6 linked regions of the Homo sapiens genome follow. The gene in region 1 interacts genetically with each later gene. Each region holds a gene or a part of one and is shown on either strand. Other genes may lie near its edges. The genes, in order: SSB, CDCA8, MTOR, RPP38, FAM98B and BNIP1.

Region 1 (3,694 bases):
CAAAACAAAAGTTAGAAGAAGATGCTGAAATGGTAAGTATATATTACTGCTATCTAGTACATCTGTAATTCGAAGTTAAATGAATAGCTTTTAAGTCTGAGGACTTTTTCAAGAAAATACGTAAGCAAAGCTATCTATAGTTGTTATTGCATTAAGTAATACATCAGGTATTATATTGAGGGAAAAGAGAAAACTAAGGATAGGAAATATGTTCTAAAATATGGAAAAGGCCGGGTGCAGTGGCCCACGCCTGTAATCCCAGCACTTTGGAAGGCCGAGGCGGGCAGATCAGTTGAGGCACGGAGTTCGAGACCAGCCTGGCCAATATGGTGAAACCCCATCTTGACTAAAAATACAAAAATTAGCCAGGCGTGGTGGTGCATGCCTGTAATCCCAGCTATGTGGGAGGCTGAGGCAGGAGAATCACTTGAACCCAGGAGGCGGAGGTTGCAGTGAACCAAGATCATGCCACTGCAGTCCAGCCTGGGTGACAGAGTGAGACCCTGTTTAAAAATAAAAAATATAATAAAACACAGGAAAATATATTTTGAAATATTCAGAAAAAGTTCATTTATGCCTAGAACTTATTTTTATGAGAAAATGTCCTATAACTTCTAAAGATTCTAATCATAGGTTAATACTAACATGACTTTTATTTTTGACTTAATAAGATACTGATGTGTATTTCCATTTAGAAAGTTACAGGTAAAAATTTTTATTTGGGGAAAATAATGACTATAAAATTTTTTTTTTTCTTTTTTTGAGACCGAGTCTCACTGTTGCCCAGGCTGGAGTGCAGTGGCGCGATCTCGGCTCACTGCAAGCTCCACCTCCCAGATTCATGCCATTCTTCTGCCTCAGCCTCCCGAGTAGCTGGGACTACAGGCGCCTGCCACCACGTCCGGCTAATTTTTTGTATTTTTTTTTAGCAGAGACGGGGTTTCACCATGTTAGCCAGGATGCTCTCGATCTCTTGACCTGGTGATCCGCCTGCCTCGGCCTCCCAAAGTGCTGGGATTACAGGTGTCAGCCACTGCGCCCGGCCTAAAAATTTTTTAAAGTATGATAAATACTGCCTAGAATTATTTTCCAAGATAGTTTAATAGCCAGATTTATGTAGTTTATAACTAATTAAATACCAGTTGTATAAGAGATCAAATAATATTGAAAGCCATTTTGGAATAAAGGATGACAAAGGAAAACACCAACACTATGAAACTACTTTATTTATTTATTATTATTATTATTTTTTGAGATGGAGTTTCGCTCTTGCTGCCCCGGCGGAAGAAACTACTTTAAAATAGCATTTTGGTTTCTAGTCTTTTTCTTGTATAGCTATAAGGTGGTGTGAGTCATTTCTGGTCTGTTGTTGCTTTTAAGAAACTTTTTGATCACTTTGTATATTTTTATAGAAATCTCTAGAAGAAAAGATTGGATGCTTGCTGAAATTTTCGGGTGATTTAGATGATCAGACCTGTAGAGAAGATTTACACATACTTTTCTCAAATCATGGTGAAATAAAATGGATAGACTTCGTCAGAGGAGCAAAAGAGGTTTGGATACATCCCTATCCTTTTTAGCAATCAGTTTGAAAATCTGTAGAAACTTAGACAAAATTAGTAGAAAGTAATTTTAAAAATTGTGTTTATTAAATTAGTTTCTACTTGATCATTTGTTATTGCCACTAGATGTGATGTCTGATATTTTCTGAATTATACTAAATTAGTTTCTACTTGATCATTTACTTTGTTGTTATTGTCACTATATGTGATGTCTGATAGTTTCTGAATTATACTATGAATAACTGTTCATACTGATGATTGCAGTTTTACTTCTGTAGCATTCCTTTTCTACTGTTCAGTAAAATTCATTCAAACTGGTAAAGACATGGAAGGTTTGCAGGGTAGAAAAAATTACTTTGGACAAAGAAATTAATTGTGGGACTAAAAACCAAGGGTATGGCTTTTGTTTTCTGTCTCTGGTATAGGGGATAATTCTATTTAAAGAAAAAGCCAAGGAAGCATTGGGTAAAGCCAAAGATGCAAATAATGGTAACCTACAATTAAGGAACAAAGAAGTGACTTGGGAAGTACTAGAAGGAGAGGTGGAAAAAGAAGCACTGAAGAAAATAATAGAAGACCAACAAGAATCCCTAAACAAATGGAAGTCAAAAGGTCATTTATTCTGATTTTTCTTTAACAGTTTGGTTGTTGAACCCATTTACTTGAGCAAAAACTTTAATCAGTGTTCAAAAACATTGACAAGAGACTTAAAAAAAGTTCTTTACAGAGTGCTCAATTGTGTCTCTACAGGTCGTAGATTTAAAGGAAAAGGAAAGGGTAATAAAGCTGCCCAGCCTGGGTCTGGTAAAGGAAAAGTACAGTTTCAGGGCAAGAAAACGAAATTTGCTAGTGATGATGAACATGATGAACATGATGAAAATGGTGCAACTGGTAAGTTTTTTTTAAGTCCTTTGGTAGTTTCATGAGAAAATTTCTACTTCCATAAATAAATGATTTGCCAGAGAGAATAGGGATTTGGCTTTTCAACTCCTGGATAAGTGCCATTCTTGGATTATTAACGATTTACCTCGGTTATGCTGTTGTATAAGTCAGGGACAGGATATTTGGAAGATGAATCTAGAGGTCAGGTCTGTACTAAGAGAAAAGCCTTTTCTCATTGGTGCAAGGAAGTTGTTGCATCTTTTTCAACAGTATCATTATTAGTAATTGTGCTCAGTATTAAACTAGAGCAGTACTTACGTTGAATTTAACAAAAATTAATTGTTACGTTATAGGACCTGTGAAAAGAGCAAGAGAAGAAACAGACAAAGAAGAACCTGCATCCAAACAACAGAAAACAGAAAATGGTGCTGGAGACCAGTAGTTTAGTAAACCAATTTTTTATTCATTTTAAATAGGTTTTAAACGACTTTTGTTTGCGGGGCTTTTAAAAGGAAAACCGAATTAGGTCCACTTCAATGTCCACCTGTGAGAAAGGAAAAATTTTTTTGTTGTTTAACTTGTCTTTTTGTTATGCAAATGAGATTTCTTTGAATGTATTGTTCTGTTTGTGTTATTTCAGATGATTCAAATATCAAAAGGAAGATTCTTCCATTAAATTGCCTTTGTAATATGAGAATGTATTAGTACAAACTAACTAATAAAATATATACTATATGAAAAGAGCAAAAACAGTTTTTGATTTTTTTTTTCTTTTTGTACCCAAAGCATTTAGGAAAGAACTAGAATATTAGCTATTGACGATGGGCCTTTCCCACAGGCCATTTATGGTGTCTCCTAGGCTGGCTTTGTATATTTACACAGGAAAGTTGGTAACACTAGAAATAATTACTTGTCACAAAGCTTTCCTTTTTTTTTCTTTTTCGAGACTGAGTCTCACTCTTATCGCGCAGGCTGGAGTTCAGTGGGGCAATCTCAGCTCACTGCAACCTCTGCCTCCTGAGTTCAAGCGATTCTCTTGCCTCAGCCTCCCGAGTAGCTGGGATTACAGGCATGAACCACCACATCCGGCCCAGAAAGCTTTTCAATACCGAATGTAGACCAGCCAAAATCAAGAGACTTACTGATTTCTTTTTGTGAAACTTGTATGATGCTGGCAGGTCATATCGAAGTTCTGTAAAACAAAAGCCACCTAAGGATAAAATTGTATTTCCAAGCGTTTACCACCCTTG
Region 2 (3,500 bases), on another chromosome or scaffold:
CCAGGAGACAGCCAAGGAGGCGCCACTCCACTCCAGCTTGGGTGACAGAGCAAGACTCTGTCTCAAAAATAAATAAAATTTAAAATATATTTTTTAAAAAGAAAAATAAGCAGAATTTTTGGGGTGATGTTTGAGCTGAGTTTTGAAGGATGAGTTAGAAATTTGTTAAGTACGGAGGTGAATTTCAGGCAGAGGAAATACAAAGTACCATGGCAACAAGTCATGAGAGTCAGTGGCACATTTGGGATATAACTTGGAGAAAGAATAGATTAGATGGTGAAGGTCCTTGAAGGTTAGACCAAGGGCTGGACCAGTTTTAGAAAGATAAATGGTACTATTAGGCAAGATGATTTATTGTTAAAATGTAATAGTAACTACAACGTTCTTTTTAAAGCCCTTGGAGGAAACAAACAGGCCCTGGAAGAGGCGGCAACAGTAAGTGACCTTTCCTATTTTCCAGCCAGTGGTTACTTAAGTCTAGTCCAGTCCCCAGATCCAACTAATAGATGCTTACTGTGGAAGAGGTTTCATAAAGGGACATCATCTGTTTGTGTCAACTGAAAAATTAGAGTTGGACCAGACACTGTATACATGAGACCCAGATAGTTCTGAGCCCTACAGAAGGTGGCAGTTCTGTTTTTGACCAATTTCTTGCAGTCCTTTGTTCTGAACTCTACAGCGGAAGTAGAAAGCCTCAAGCCCAAGTTCCTTTAAGCGCCTGAGTCATTACACTATGCATTGGCCTGCTAGATGATAAAGGTGTTTCATCATGTCGTACTGTAGAAGCAGTGCTTTTGCTTGGGATGCTCAGTATTCCCCAACCCCTCTCATCTCCTTCCTCCCAGCATCAGTGCCAGGATTGAAGGCAGTAAGATGGGGATGCAAAATAGAGCATTTAAAGCTGCACTGTCCAGTGTAGTAGCCACTGGGCATATGTAGCTATTTCAGTTAATTACAATTAATAAAATTAAAGAATTCATTTCCTCAGACATACTAGCCACATTTTACATGTTCAATACCTACATATGACTAGTAGCTACTCCATCAGAGAGCACAGAAATAGAACATTGCTACTCTTGCAGAAAGTTTTATGAGACAGCATTGGGAACTAGTCCATACATGGGCTTCACAGAGTCCCTAGGCACTCTAAAATAATATACAAACAATGCGTGTGTATGCACGCATTTGTGTATCTTTCTGTTAGTTTATTGTAGCCTTGATCAGATTTACAAAGTAAACCCCAAAATTACATCTTTTGTTGAGTTGATCAGAATCATTTGGAATATCAGGGTTTGAAGGAGTCTGACCACCAAGGGCACATAGCAGATCTCCGCCAGCTTCATTCAGAAGGTAAAGGTAATGAGGAGCCAATTATCAATTTGGAAAAAATTGGAGCATTTGGGAGAGAGGTGGGGATTATTCACCCCCCTACATACACTGAGCTCCAATGTTTTAAAAGAGTTACCTCTGAGATGAATTATGCTTACTAGCTAATGCAGTTCTCTCTTTTTAAATTAGAAATACAGAACTGCAAATGAGAACTTCTAATGTAATATGAGAGAGCCATTGTTACCACACCAAGTTGAGAGAATTCTAGCCTTGACTAATATGATTTAAAACTCCAGAAAGGAACGATAGAAAATCTATAAAAGCTCTTAGTTGGGAAGTGTGTTGGGGCTCCCAAGACCACCTCCAGGTTTGGTGATTCACTAGGAGGATTCATGGGGCTCAGCATACAGTCACACCCATGGCGATGATTTATTACAGTGAAAGTATACAAAGCATTAATCAACAAAGGAGAAAATTGCATAGGACAAAGTCCAGAGGAAACCAGGCTTCTAGGAGTCCACTCCCTGTAGAGTCAAACAGAACATGCTTAATTCAACACATATGAAATGCTGTCTACCAGAAAATCTGATTAGAGAGTCAATGCCCAGAGTTTTAACTGGGGGCTGCTCACATAGGCATCCTCTGCCTAGCACATGTCAAAATCCTAGACTTTCAGGAGGGAAGTAGGTGTTCAGCATGAGCCATATTGTTTGCATAAAGTTTAGGCACAGTGAGGCATCTTGTTAAGGAAAGGTGGGAATCTTTCTGAAATCAAGTTCCCAGATGCCAACCGAGGCCAGGCTTGCAAACAGGCCTTTCTATGTGTATCAGTCTCAGGCCTGCTCTGTTAACTGTCCTGCACAGTAGATGCCCAGTGGCCTGCCACCACTGATGACTCCATAAAATGCCAGTTGTTTCTAGAGATGGCAGAAGGTTGGCAGGAATGCCCCTACTTTCTGTTGCATCAAGCCTGGCAAACATCAGTAACTTATTACAGCCCTATTTCTTGCTAAGCCTAAGACAGCCTCAGAATCCTTCTCTGAGTATGTCAAGCAGTCCCTACCAGAAATGAAACCTGTGCCATTCCAAACCTGTAGTAATTATTCTGATGTTTACATGTGTTCTATAAGGAAAGGACTGTGAATCATGACTGCTCTTTGTAGTGCCCATACTTATTACCATATGAAAAAAAAACGAATTTGAATGGTGACTGGAAGCCTTTTTGAAGGACCCAGGATCATCATAGAAAACCTTATTGAGACCCTGTAGATTTATCGAAAAAATGGTAAGCTTGACACACCACCAAGTGTTGTAGAGGATGTAGATCATTAGGAACTTGTATTGTTTGCAGATGGGCTGTAGTCAAGGGTAACCACTTTGGGAAACAATTTGGCATAATGCGAAGGCTGAATATTTATGTAACCTATAATCCCTGTCATGTCCTATCCAAAGGATAGAGCCAAGGGGAAACTTGGACATGTACCTCAGACACATGTAAGACAGTTCAAGGTAGCAGTGTTTATAATAGCAGGAAACTATTGATGGAAGATGGACAAATCCATTGTGGTATATTCACACAGTGGGATATGATATAGCAATGAAAACAAATTAACTACAACCACAAAGAGTGGTGAAAACAGCCAAAACCAAACAAAATGCTTAAGTACACACTTGTGAAAAAGCACATCTGTGTGTGCACACATGTATACACACATATGCATGTATCTGTGAGCACATACACATGTACCTTTCGATAAAGCAAGTGCAATGATATGGTTACCCCTGGGGAATGAAGGATTAGGAGACTCATCACCTTTGGAAGAAGAGATAAGAAAATGGAACAAGGAATGAATACAGAGCCAGAAGCAAGTTATTGGCAATGTTTTAGGTCTTGGGCTGTGTGGTGGGTTTATGGGAGTTTGCTATATTGTATATTGTATCACTAACATTTAACAGTCTTATGTATTAAATAATAGTTTTAAAAAAGTTTTTATCTTGAAATATTGTTCCTCATATTTTGGTGGAATAAGCCTGGTGCTTTCTGGCTATGTTTGTCATAGGCTGACCTGGATATCACCGAAATAAACAAACTAACAGCAGAAGCTATTCAGACACCCCTGAAATCTGCCAAAAGTGAGTACCTTTCAAAACTCCTTGTTGTACAGAAAGAA
Region 3 (3,500 bases), on another chromosome or scaffold:
AAGTCAGTAACCTAAGACAAAATGTAATGTTAAATTGTAGACTCCTCTGGGTAGCTGAGTTAACCTGAGCTCTGTGACATCTGCTTTTGTCACTGCTCATCGATTTCCTTCTGGCAGCTTTATCCAGAAATCTGTCTATATTATGCTGTCTATGTCACCATGAGCAAGATATGCTGATTTGCTGGTGTCCTAAGGATGTCAGCTAGAACCAATGTGTTATCTCCAGTCAGTAAGGCTTCGGGGGATCCTGCCAGTGTGATCCCCACCTATTGAGGTTTATCTAGATATGCCCCAAACAGCTACAGAGTATCAGCACTTCTCTTGGCATCATAGCTGTTCTAACTGTTCTTTGATTCCTTTGCCATTATTTGTAGTCTTCAGTAATTTGCTGTCTGGACAAAGATTTTTCTCCCAAGGGGCCCTACCTTCTTTCCTCATTTTTATAGAACCCTACTCACAGCTCTCCCTGTTGGTTTTCTCAGTCTTCTCTGGCTGTGCTACATGGTTAAAAGCTCTGCTTTAGAGAGGGCCATGGGACATTGGAGTGCTGTGATAAAAGGAAAGGGAGCAGGTTTTCGAATAGTTTTTCTTCCTGTCACAGCTGTATCTAAGGCTGTTCTGCCTGTTGCAGAAAAGTCTGTTGCTCATTGAGTATCTAGCAGCTACTTCATCTGTCGTGGAGGTCTGGGTTTTTCCCCCAGTTCCCTGCCACTTTTTCTGTTGGACACAGTCTCTCTCTAGAATGTCTTCTGCCATAGAGAACATATGAGCCTTTCTTCCCTACAGATTTTGACAGAGTTGGAGCACAGTGGGATTGGAAGAATCAAAGAGCAGAGTGCCCGCATGCTGGGGCACCTGGTCTCCAATGCCCCCCGACTCATCCGCCCCTACATGGAGCCTATTCTGAAGGTAACACAAACCGAGAGGCTGGTGCTTTCTCTGTGCGTTGTCATCAGCTCATATGGGGAGATGGGAGTGTTTCAGTGTTCACTAGTACACTGAACAAAGTAGGTGATTTCTTTGCTCTCACGCTTGGAGACCAAAGGGCCATATCAAGCACTTTCAGTTAAAGAATACCAAGAATCTTATCAGTTGCAGGAAAGTGCTGTCCTTACAAGAGGTAAGAGTTAATGCTTCAGGCACATCATCGCAGATGTTTGGAAAGGAGAAGTAGGTAGATAGTAGCATAAAATAGCTCGCCCAAAATGAGGAAAAAATGAGCTTGAAAATCTGAAACAACCTTCAAATCTCAACACATTAGAGTCACGTGAAGTCCTTTATAATGTATGTTAATCTGGATGAACAATCACTGAGACTCGGTTTAGAGGAGACATGAGAAATACTTTCACATTATGGTGCTTCCCAGCTCTCTCACATGTCAGACTTAGACTTCATATGGAGAAAAGTTTGAGAATTTACATTCCAGAGAAATCTTGGATTCATAAAGCCTAGAAGGAATTTCTTTATGACTGAGATGGTCTCTTGGGTGAATTTTACTTATATAAAAGAAAGGTTTCTAGTAGAGTCTAATCTGCATTCATTTTCTCATAACTTCTTTCTCTAGGCATTAATTTTGAAACTGAAAGATCCAGACCCTGATCCAAACCCAGGTGTGATCAATAATGTCCTGGCAACAATAGGAGAATTGGCACAGGTAAAGGGGCAGCTACTTTTTCCATAGCGGAGATAGGGTGGAAAAGAAACTAACCTCTAAGGAAGTCAAAATACTATTTTTTTTTTTAAATGAAAGGTCTCACATATTTATTGCGGAACCCAGCCAACAATGCATTCATAACAGATTCAGAGAGAAATAATATATTCTCAATAAAACATGTCCAACTCTCCAGATAGTGGTGACATTTTCAGCTTGATATGGTAATATCATTGTGACCTTCAGACAGCATAAATGTGTGTGCCATCTCATGTGCAATTCCTTATAGACCCTGCTTGGTTCTTCTCCAGTGTCTTTTTTTGGAGTTGTACCTGGTTTTATTACCAGTTTTCATCCGAATCCACTGGGGAATGGGACGATTTTACTTTTGTTTCTTGGCCAGGAATTGCTTAATTCTGAAAGTCTTGTGAGAAGAATGGCAAGAATCAGAGTCAGGCACACACCATGATGGTGGAGAAAGGAAGAGAGGGCTTTTTTAAAAAAAATTTTTTATTTTATTTATTTGTTTTTGAGACAGTTTCACTTTGTCCAGGCTGGAGTGCAGTGGTGTGATCTTGGCTCACTGCAACCTCCATCTCCTGGGTTCAAGTGATTCTCGTGCCTCACCCTCCCAAGTAGCCGGGATTACAGGTGTGTGCCACCACACCTGGCTAATTCTTGTATTTTTAGTAGAGATGGGGTTTTACCATGTTGGCTAGGCTGGTCTGGAGCTCCTGATGCCAGGTGATCTGCCCTCCTCAGCCTCCCAAAGTGCTGGGATTACAGGCATGAGCCACCGTGCCCGGCCTCCAAAATACTTTCTAATGCCAGAATTTCTAACCCTTTCTGCCACCCTCTTTTTCATTTTGCAGGTTAGTGGCCTGGAAATGAGGAAATGGGTTGATGAACTTTTTATTATCATCATGGACATGCTCCAGGATTCCTCTTTGTTGGCCAAAAGGCAGGTGAGTATTACTGCTTCCTGATTGAGCAAGACAGACCCCATGAGTCCAGGGACTTTGCTTCTCTTTATTCACCTTAGTGTCCTCACCCAGTGCCTAGAACAGAGTGTGACACATAGTAGGTGCTCAAAAATATTTGTTGAATGAGTAAAAGTTAGAAAGATTTGAAACCAGAATTACCTGTTGTCCTGACCCAGAGTCAGTTTCAGTAATTATCGGGGCTGACTAGTGCCATTTTGTCTATACAAAAGAAAATGCAGGTCAATTGTCAGAGCCGTAGCTCTCAGAGGGAAAAAGAAAGCCTTGGCCACTGCCTATGAAGGAACAGAAGTTTAGCTCATCCTTGCCCAGCCCTGGTTCTGCTTTCCCAATTTGAGGCTATTAGATGACTAGACTAAAATTAAGAACAGTCTTAATTTATTTCTGGGCATGGCAGCTCACACTTGTAATCCTAGCACTTTGGGAGGCTGAGGCAGGAAGATTGCTTGAGCTCCAGAGCGAGAGCAACCTGGGCATGATGAGACTTTGTCTCTACTAAAAAAAAAAAATAGCTGGGCATGGTGGCATGTGCCTGTAGTCCCAGCTACTTGGAGGCTAAGATGGGAAGATCACTCGATTCCAGGAGATTAAGGCTGCAGTGAACTGTTATCACACCACTGCATTCCAGTCTCCAGTGAGACCCTGTCTCAACAACAACAAAAAATCTTAATTTCCTTTTGAATCTCCTGTTAATCATTTGGGATATGGAAGAATGATGTGTTTTCTTTGAGAAAGGTGGGAATTTTCTTTGTCTCTTGATCCAGTGATTGTTGCAGGGTTGTGTGCTTGATCAACCTTGGTTTTATGCCCTTTTGGGATTTCTGCTCATGGTTAGTGTCTTTACTGGA
Region 4 (2,201 bases), on another chromosome or scaffold:
TGCATTGCATCTGGATGAGCCACTTTTCTTCCTGATTTCCTGAGCTCTAGGGGAGCATAGAGATAATGGGGTCAGGGGACACAGTGTGGCCACCGTGAAGGAAGCAGCTTAGGCCCCAGAAGTCTCCAGGATTGCTGTACCGAGATGACCAGGGTGTGATCTCTCACCCTAAGGAGCTGAATTTGGCTTTTCTGTGGGAAAGTGTCTGGGAAGAATATCAGAGACCAATAGCGCTCAGGGGGCCCTTTCTCGGGGCTGTCCAGTGTGGAAACACCCTGTCCTACACCAGTGGTTCCTGATTCCGGCTCTGAATCAGATTCACGAGGGCAACTTTTTTTTTTTTTTTGATATGGAGTCTTGCTGTCGCCCAGGCTAGAATGCAGTGGCGCGATCTTGACTCACTACAACCTCCGTCTCCTGGATTCAAGAGATTCTCCTGCCTCAGCCTCCAAGTAGCTGGGATTACAGGCAGGCACCACCATGCCTGGCTAATTTTTTTGTATTTTTTAGTAGAGACGGGATTTCGCCATATTGGCCAGGCTGGTCTCGAACTCCTGACCTTATGATCCGCCCGCCTTGGGCTCCCAATGTGCTTTGGTTACTGGCGTGAGCCACTGCACCCGGCCTGGGGCAGCTTTTTATAAGCACAGATGCCCAGGCCTTATTATTGAAGATTCCAATTCAGTAGATCTGGGTTGAGGACCAAGCATCTGCATGTTTTAAGAAGCCACAGGTTATTTTTGAGGTGTAGCAAGGATTGAAAGAACAGAAAACTTGGATTTGGAAAACTAGTTGTGACTTTAGGCAGTGAGTCAGTTTCCTAATGCACACATTGGGGGATTCTATAGGAATGCTGTAAGAAGCAAATAATACATGGAGAGAGTGCTTTATACAGCGATACACTGCACAGACACACTTGCCTTCAACATCAGCTGCCAGCCTAGTAAGTGGTAGTATAAATGCAAAGGATATAACTTCCTTTAGTTTTGCCAGGTGGGTCCCTGTGATTCTAGCTGAGCCCCAGGAAGGAAGGGAAGAAAACTGAGGGAAGAGAAGGGAGTGTGTAGTTGCCTCTGGGAAGGATAAAAGGATATGCCCTCTGGACCAATAGTTTATAACATTTTCCCCATTAAGCATCCTTCTACTCATTTTTCCTCAATGGATTAGTATCTTTAAATTTCATTACATTTCCCTAGTCTTCATGGAATTGCCAGCCAGAGAAGTCAGCTCGGGGTCCCCCTAAAAAGGAGGACTGGCCGGGAGTGGTGGCTCGTTCCTGTAATCCCAGCACTCTGGGAAGCTGAGGTGGGTGAATCACCTGAGGTCAGGAGTTCGAGACCCGCCTGGCCAACATGGTGAACCCCATCTCTACTAAAAATACAAAAATTAGCCAGGCGTGGTGTTGGGCACCTATAATCCCAGCTACTCCGGAGGCTGTGGCAGGAGAATCGCTTGAATCTGGGAGGCAGAGGTTGCAATAAGCTGAGATCATGCCATTGCACTCCAGCCTAGGCAACAAGAGCAAAACTCCGTCTCAAAAAACAAAAAAAAGGGAGTGTATGCCTGCATATGTATCAAATGCTGTAGGAAGGATATTCAAGAAATTTAGGGCCCTGGGAGGTGGGGAGACTTACAAAAGTGGACGTGACAGTGTTATTTGAAGTTTTAATCATGAGATGACTGTTCAGTTCTTTAAAATATCACACCTGATTGGTTGTGAATGGCAGAGGCCACCAGAGTATTTGCAGATTGGGAGCTCTACGTGGGTGGACATCGGGTCTTGCTTACTGTGAGCCCCAGGACCTAGAACACCACTTGCATACTGGAGGTGCTCAGATCATTTTTTTTTTTTTTTTTTTGCAGACAGGGTCAGATGTGTTACTGGGCTGGAGTGTGGTGGCACAATCACGCTCACTGCATCCTTGACCTCCTGGGCTCAAGTGATCTTCCCACCTCAGCCTCCCAAGTAGCTGGGACTACAGGTACGCCTCACACTTAGCTAATTTATGTATTTTTTGTAGAGGGTTTCTCCATTTGCTCAGAGTGGTCTCGAACTCATGGGCTGAAGTGATCTGTCCACCACAGCCTCCCGAAATTCTGAGACTGAAGGCATGAGCCAGTGTGCCAGGCCTAGAATATTTGTTGAGTGAATGCATGGAAGCCCAACTAGATAGCATTTTGGAAAACAGTAACAAGTTAGA
Region 5 (3,500 bases), on another chromosome or scaffold:
ACATTACTGAACTTAGTGATTGATTGGATATTAAAATTCAAGGATTCATTTCTCTTTATTTTAAAAAATTTTTTAGATACAGGGTCTTGTTATGATACCCGGGCTAGTCTTGAACTCCTGGCCTCAAATGATCTCCTGCCTTGGCTTCTCAAAGTGTTGGGATTACAGGTGTGAGCCACCACGCCCCAACAGATTAATTTCTTCAGTTGGTATTTATTGAGCACCAAAATGAAATGATACACCTTAGAATCTAAATTGGATACAGAAGAATGTGAAGATAGGAGAGAGTTGGTAAATATGGAGAATGCAGAGGAATCAATGAATGGAGGTAATGATGATATCAAAGAATAGTTATAGGTGAGTGGTCGAAGAAGCAAGTGGAAGGATAAATAAGAGGTTGTGGTCAGGGAGCCACATGTTTGGATAAGTGATTTTGGAGGTGCAGTGGTTGTAAGTAATGGCAAGGGTGCAAGGGGGGCTGAGTGACATGTGCAGGTTGGAATTGAGAGCTCAGGGTGTGAGATAGGGTATACATACAGACATTAAAGAAACTCAGTGTAATGGCAAGAATAGAGGTGGAGAGGAAAACTGAGCAAAGGGGATGTTGGGGAGTGTCCAAGAGGTAATAGATGAAAACCACAAGTGAATGGGTGGCAAATCTGAGTGGCCTGTGCCTCAAGGAAATAGGAGATATTTATAAGATAATGGGAGAGCAGTGATAATGATGCTATTTTGGTAAGAAAGGAGGCCAAAACTCCTACTATCTGACCTTAAGGCATTTGTGAAAATAAAAATAATTAAAGCTAGAGATGGTAGGAATAACAATCTTACTTTTTTTTTTTTTTTTTAAGAAAGAGAATTTTCAGAGTCAAAAGAACAGAAATCAGTAATCTGTTCTCTTCCAGGGTGGGGAGAAAACCTCCTTCCCCATAGGTTCGAGACTATGGCTAGATGGTGAAGAAGGGAGCTCAGTACCCAACCTTGGGGAGACACAGAAAGGGCCCATGCCAGGCACTTAGCTAGAGGCAAGCGTAGCTTTTGGGCCACAAGACCTGATGGCCACTGGGGTACTGGCCTGGAAACAAGTCCTCATCTTCCCAGAAATGTCTTATTTTTGTCTGCAGCAGCTGGCTGGAGAAAGATTTTGGAAAGGTGTGTACCTGGAGCACCCAAAGGCATACCCTTCCTTTTTCCTTGGCATAGGCTTTATAACACTGAGGAAAGGTCATGGTTTGGCAATGGAGTCTTCAATAGTCTTCATCCCTGTAGAGTTCAGTGGCTTTTAGGGTGACAGGAGAGGAGACGACTTGAAAGACCAAGAGTCTTTCAGCTTCTCCCCCACTGAAACGCTATATGCTGGGGCCACAGTTCATGGCAGAACACACACTCACACACACATCTCGGGAACCCAACAACTCGGGAGCAGGTAGTTCTGGGTATTGTTGGTCTGGCATTTGCCTACTTGGCATCTAAGCTGTCCTAAAGCTCCTTACAATCACTTCTCACTATTTCCAGGCCCATGTGGTGAGGCCCTCCAGCTTTCACTCTGTCCGTCAGGTGATCCTAAAGGCACAGCATAGGAAAGACCCTTACTGGGATGACCACTGCTTGGAAGCAGGGAAGGCTAAGAGGCCTGCCCCTACCCAAGGCTGGTATAGATGTCCTCTGCTCTGCTTCTCAAAGACTGGGAACAGGTTCAGCAACTCAGTATCTGCCATGTCATCAAACCAGGACTGCACAGGCACTGCATTCTCTGGGTGGAAGATGTAAGAAGCAGACAAGTTGTCCAGGATGAGGGTTTTCCTCAGGTTCCTCCCCAGGCGGCTGAGGTTCCTGACTTAGCAGCCCTGGTGGAACCACAGGACTCATGGAATAGGTGAGCCCGGAACACCCCACACCGGCCAGCAGATCCGTCACAGGGTTGGCATACTTGGCCAGGTTGGCAGTGAAGGGAACACATTCAAAGAGTTCTCTCATTCGTCTCTTTCCACGTGAGCTCTTTTGAGGACAGAAACCTGCTTGAGTGGTCTCCTCAATCTCTGTAGGCACTGTGAAGCTAGCATTGTTGCTGGGCTTAAAGATGCACAAGGGCTTCATCCAGGTCAGTGACCACACAGATCCTCCTTTGATCTTCCTCTGTCACCTTGGGGCAGACACGTCCCTGGGATCCGATAAAACTGGTACTGGAGACACTGGAGCAGATCCGACTTAGCAGTGGTGTTGGCTTCCTCCTTATATGGATGAGCTCAGTGGAAGAGCTTGACTGGCCATGCTGGATGCGAAAATAGCAGACAAGGGCCTTGAAGATGTTATATCCACGAGGCTTCTTAAGGAGGGCTTGGAGACCAGGCCTTGCTTGGTGAGCACCAGGGCATCTTCCCCTGTGCCTGGGTGATGATGGAACTGTGCTCCATCTAATTCCACAGGTGCGGGCTGGTTGGGTGGAAGAACCAGTGAGCCCATGGTCTGGGCTGGGCTGGGGGGCCTGGGTTTGGGCTTGCTGCAACTCCTGAGACTCCCGACTCCCACAGCTGTTTACATACCCCCTCTCCTTTCCTCCCTGGGCTGCGAAGCGAGGTGGCCTGTACCAAGGGTGGGCGCCCGGAGATGGGCTCCCTTGGGTACCCTGGCTCCAGTCTCCTAGCAGCAGCTCTGGGCTTCTCAGTTTGGGTCCAAAATGGAGAATCCAGAGTGAAAACAAGAGAGGAATAATCTTTCTGAGAAGAAATGGACAGTATAGCAAAATATCCACTGTGTTGTAGATGAAAGATAGTGGACATTTTTAGGAAGCAGAGAGAGGTAGAGAGTTGGATGAGGGGCAAAGACAATAGGTTGGGTAAATGATGGGAAAAGAAAGGGTCTTCTGTTTTATCTCTTGGCTGATGAAAATAGAAAGTAAATTAGGCCCTGGTTGTATTGTTGAGGAGAGTTGCCAGCAGCCCTAATGGACTGAAGATTTGGATCACCCAGCTTGAAGTAGTGTCTGACCAGCAACTATGCTTCCAGGGTATGAGGCTTTGAGGGAGGGCCTAGGCCTAGGGGAGATGTTCCCAGTGTTTGGAATAACAGTAGCACTTTGATGAATAACTAAGAATATATAGAACAAACTAGGAGCATGGTTATTCTCTGTAAACGCAGAATGGCATTGGAAATCAAAGCCAGTATGAAATAAATGTGGTAAACACTAAACAGTTGCTAAATGTAGCATAAATAGACTCTTAAATGCCTGCTGTAATTTCTCATGTACTGCAAGAGGAGAAGGAGTGATGATAAATATTGAGAGTTTTTTTTTTTAAATGAAAGTAAAAAAATAAGTACTATGCTGCTTAAGAGAGGTCTGTGGACTAGCAGCGTCATCATCACCTGGGGAGTAGAAATGCAGAATCCCAGACATCATTCCAGCTCTACTGAATTAGAATCTTTATTTTAACAAGACCCTCAGGAGATTCATATGCACATAAAAGTTTAAGAAGTACTGTTCTAGCCAGAAAAGTGCTTTC
Region 6 (3,500 bases), on another chromosome or scaffold:
TTCACCGTGTTAGCCAGGCTGGTCTCGATCTCCTGACTTTGTGATCAGCCTGCCTCAGCCTCCCAAAGTGCTGGGATTACAGGCGTGAGCCACCGCGCCCGGTCAAAACTTATACTGTTAAGTATAATTTTATTATACGTATATTGGAAATTTTTCCATTTCAGTAATCAGAGACTGTCCTCATTTTTCTTTTTTTTTCTTTTTTTGAGACAGGGTCTTGGGCTGTCACCCAGGCCAGAGTGCAGTGGCACAATCTCAGCTCACCACAGCCTTGATTTCCCAGGCTCAAGCGATTTTCCTCCTGCCTCAGTCCCCCAAATAGTTGGGACTACAGGCGTGCGCCACCACACCCAGCAAATTTTTGTAGTTTTTATAGAGACAGGGTTTTGCCATGTTGCTCAGGCTGGACTTGAACTCCTGGACTCAAGTGATTGCCTGCCTCAGCCTTCCAAAGTGTTGGGATTACAGGCAGGAGCCACCACACCTGGTCTCTCATTCTTTTCTAAATAACTGTCATTTTTTTTTTTTTTTTTAGCCAGTTCTCTATCAAAGGGCATTTATTTGGACTGCTTCCACATTTTTTTTTAAGCTAACTTATTCCCTGACAGACTTTTCTTCAACTCAGCATGACTTCAACTCTCCAACTACACCTGTTACCTTCAGTGTGAGTATTTGTATGTTCTTTTTAAACATCTGGGTGCCCACCCAGTGTTTATTTCCTTCACTCATTAAAATGACCTCACCAATACGTGTACATTTACATATTTATTATGGCACCTAGGAAGGACCTAATAAGCACATGGCCAGTAAATGAATAACCCCATCCCAGTTTTAATCTGCGTTTCTTAAGTATTTACATACTCTTTTTGTATCTGGAAATAAATACAAGATTCCTGTTTGTTTGCCATTTTTAGCTTTTATTTGAATGTCTTTTTTGTGTATTTCCAACAAGATCATGTGATACTAGAGAACTGGCCTCATATCCTCAAAACTGGGTGTTCTGCACATGGTGAATCTTGGGCACTGACTGTGTATAAATATCTGTGTGTTTGTCTTTGTACATATAGCTCTCAAACTGGAATTTGAGGACTGCTCTCCCCCGCCATTCCTTTCTCCAGAACTATCACTGGTTCTCTTTGAAAGAACTTCCAGGCAATCTTTCATGAGTAAATTGTACATTTCTCCCCCTTTTTAATCCCTCCGCTTTTCCCATGCGTTCATTCTTCCATTCAGTGACTCAGTGCCCAGTATGTGCCAGGCACAAGGAATATATGTAGTGAATAATGTGAGATACAGCTCTGCTTATTCATAGAATTTACATTCTTTTTTTTTTTTTTGAGACGGAGTCTCACTCTGTTGCCCAGGCTGGAGTGCAGTGGCACGATCTCGGCTCACTGCAATCTCCACTTCCCGGGTTCACGCCATTCTCCTGCCTCAGCCTCCCGAGTACCTGGGATTACAGGCGCCCGCCACCACGCCTGGCTAATTTTTTGTATTTTTAGTGGAGACGGGGTTTCACCGTGTTAGCCAGGATGGTCTTGATCTCCTGACCTCGTAATCTGCCTGCCCTGGCCTCCCAAGGTGCTGGAATTATAGGCGTGAACCACCAGGCCCAGCCCATAGAATTTACATTCTAATAGGGAATACAGATTTTAAACAAATAATTATGAAAATAATTGATGACATTTGCAAAACTTTTCTAATTCACAGTTGATTATTTCTTTTATTCTCTACCTCAGCAATATTTGGAGGCATAAATTGAAAGTCATCTCTGTGCTATTGAAATGGTGGATACACAAACTTGTTCCAAACCAGTATGTGCAAATTGATACGTAAATCAGTAAATTAGTATATAAATGAGCAAATACATTGATGTTTCAGATCAATAGCGTGATTGAAGCTAGAACCTGTTTTAATTTGTAAACCAAAAAATGTGATTGGTATAATGCTATCTTTAATTATAGTCCCTCTTGATGGTTCTTTTATCTGAAGTTCTTGGGGTTTAATACTTCTGGGTATGTCTGCTGACCCTAACTTATAGTGGGTTATTTCCTTGGTGTTAGGTTATTTTGGACTGTGAGCGCTCATCTTAGCAGACCTTATCTGAGGGACTTTGTGCAGCTGGGTCGAGGCCAAGTCTCTACAGAGGTTTTTGCATTAGCTTCCCGCCAGGTCTCCTGAGATGATCACAAGTCTGACAACATTTTTTTTTTTTTTGAGACAGTCTCTCTCTGTCGCCCAGGCTGGAGTGCAGTGGCGCAGTCTTGGCTTGCTGCAAGCTCTGCCTCCCGGGTTCACGCCATTCTCCTGCCTCAGCCTCCTGAGTAGCTGGGACTACAGGTGCCCGCCACCACGCCCGGCTAATTTTTTGTATTTTCAGTTGAGATGGGGTTTCACCATGTTAGCCAGGATGGTCTCGATCTCCTGACCTCGTGATCTCCCCGCCTCGGCCTCCCAAAGTGCTGGGATTACAGGCGTGAGCCACTGCGCCCGGCCGAGAACACTGTTTATGTTCATTTCTCTTCATGGAGTTTCACGAACCACTCAGGGAAGATAAATTGAACCCTAGATCAGTGGAAGGAGCAGCTCCCTGGTTGGTTATAAATTCTCAGGGGAGTTTTTTTTTAACCCCTCTATTTGGAACTCATAGCAAAAAAAGGCAAGCATCTATGTTTTCCCTCTGTGCTGGTAGATGGACATTTTTTTATACCATTTTCCTGTGTCTGTAACCTTTCGTGGGTTTTAGATTTGTGGTGATCTCAGTTCAGCTTCTCAACCTCAGCCTCAGATGGCTCAGGGCTTCATTTTTCTGTCCCTGCACGAGCTCTCAAACCTTCAAGCGCTCAAACTGCCTATTACTCGTCTTTAATTAAATAGGCACAGAAATTGTGAGTATCTGGAAATGAACAGCAGTTTGATATTTTAATGATATCTAAGTGGGGGATCAGTGTGCTTGTATTTCGTCATTGTTTTTCTTTTCCTTTCGGGCCTGCCCTAGGTGACAGGAGCAGCAGCTCTGACGCCAGGACAGCCGTGCATCACTCCCAGGCTGACTATTCCAGCTCTTGTTCCCTTCCCACTTTTGGGCCATAGGGGTTTTCCTTACTTCCTTGTGGACTTAGCTATAGATTTAAAAGGATGTGTGTTATATGTTACCTAGCATTCCTAGGTGTTCTGTTTTAAAAGGGTGCTTCAAGTGCTATTGTATGCCCTTGGCAGAAATAGAAATGCTCTTCTGCTTTCATGTTGACTTTTGAAATCATTTTAACATGGAATTATTTTTCCTCAAAGGACCTGGAGCAGTTGGCTAAAGAGCAAGACAAAGAATCAGAGAAACAACTTCTACTCCAGGAAGTGGAGAATCACAAAAAGCAGATGCTCAGGTAGGCAGGGCCTGCCCCCGCCAGCGGCTTCTGCTGGCTCTTCTTGTTGCCTGTGAGCCTTGCACGTGTGTTTGCCTGATGGATCTGCTTTAATGCTGACTTAATGGTGTCTTTTTT

The links.
Region 2: changes in SSB (region 1) and CDCA8 together harm fitness more than expected from each alone (negative genetic interaction), as found in Homo sapiens cells (one large-scale study listed by BioGRID).
Region 3: changes in SSB (region 1) and MTOR together harm fitness more than expected from each alone (negative genetic interaction), as found in Homo sapiens cells (one large-scale study listed by BioGRID).
Region 4: changes in SSB (region 1) and RPP38 together harm fitness more than expected from each alone (negative genetic interaction), as found in Homo sapiens cells (one large-scale study listed by BioGRID).
Region 5: changes in SSB (region 1) and FAM98B together harm fitness more than expected from each alone (negative genetic interaction), as found in Homo sapiens cells (one large-scale study listed by BioGRID).
Region 6: changes in SSB (region 1) and BNIP1 together harm fitness more than expected from each alone (negative genetic interaction), as found in Homo sapiens cells (one large-scale study listed by BioGRID).

Annotation. Positions count from the first base shown.
Region 1 is NC_000002.12:169,808,871-169,812,564, forward strand, and holds the end of SSB (lupus La protein), read left to right. Parts: coding exon 1-32; intron 33-1,412; coding exon 1,413-1,553; intron 1,554-1,987; coding exon 1,988-2,174; intron 2,175-2,312; coding exon 2,313-2,453; intron 2,454-2,797; coding exon 2,798-2,886; 3' UTR 2,887-2,949; coding exon of another isoform or gene 2,950-2,988; 3' UTR 2,989-3,194; downstream 3,195-3,694. Other genes in the region: rRNA N(6)-adenosine-methyltransferase METTL5, read right to left, coding at 2,950-2,988, 3,587-3,636. UniProt on the Homo sapiens protein: Binds to the 3' poly(U) terminus of nascent RNA polymerase III transcripts, protecting them from exonuclease digestion and facilitating their folding and maturation.
Region 2 is NC_000001.11:37,695,516-37,699,015, forward strand, and holds part of CDCA8 (borealin), read left to right. Parts: intron 1-394; coding exon 395-435; intron 436-3,389; coding exon 3,390-3,462; intron 3,463-3,500.
Region 3 is NC_000001.11:11,231,552-11,235,051, reverse strand, and holds part of MTOR (serine/threonine-protein kinase mTOR), read left to right. Parts: intron 1-786; coding exon 787-909; intron 910-1,564; coding exon 1,565-1,654; intron 1,655-1,738; exon of another isoform or gene 1,739-2,142; intron 2,143-2,523; coding exon 2,524-2,616; intron 2,617-3,500. UniProt on the Homo sapiens protein: Serine/threonine protein kinase which is a central regulator of cellular metabolism, growth and survival in response to hormones, growth factors, nutrients, energy and stress signals.
Region 4 is NC_000010.11:15,100,355-15,102,555, forward strand, and holds part of RPP38 (ribonuclease P protein subunit p38), read left to right. Parts: intron 1-1,863; 5' UTR 1,864-1,982; intron 1,983-2,201. UniProt on the Homo sapiens protein: Component of ribonuclease P, a ribonucleoprotein complex that generates mature tRNA molecules by cleaving their 5'-ends. Also a component of the MRP ribonuclease complex, which cleaves pre-rRNA sequences.
Region 5 is NC_000015.10:38,457,127-38,460,626, forward strand, and holds part of FAM98B (protein FAM98B), read left to right. Parts: intron 1-1,432; exon of another isoform or gene 1,433-2,614; intron 2,615-3,500. UniProt on the Homo sapiens protein: Positively stimulates PRMT1-induced protein arginine dimethylated arginine methylation.
Region 6 is NC_000005.10:173,151,031-173,154,530, forward strand, and holds part of BNIP1 (vesicle transport protein SEC20), read left to right. Parts: intron 1-535; coding exon of another isoform or gene 536-664; intron 665-3,291; coding exon 3,292-3,383; intron 3,384-3,500. UniProt on the Homo sapiens protein: As part of a SNARE complex may be involved in endoplasmic reticulum membranes fusion and be required for the maintenance of endoplasmic reticulum organization. Also plays a role in apoptosis.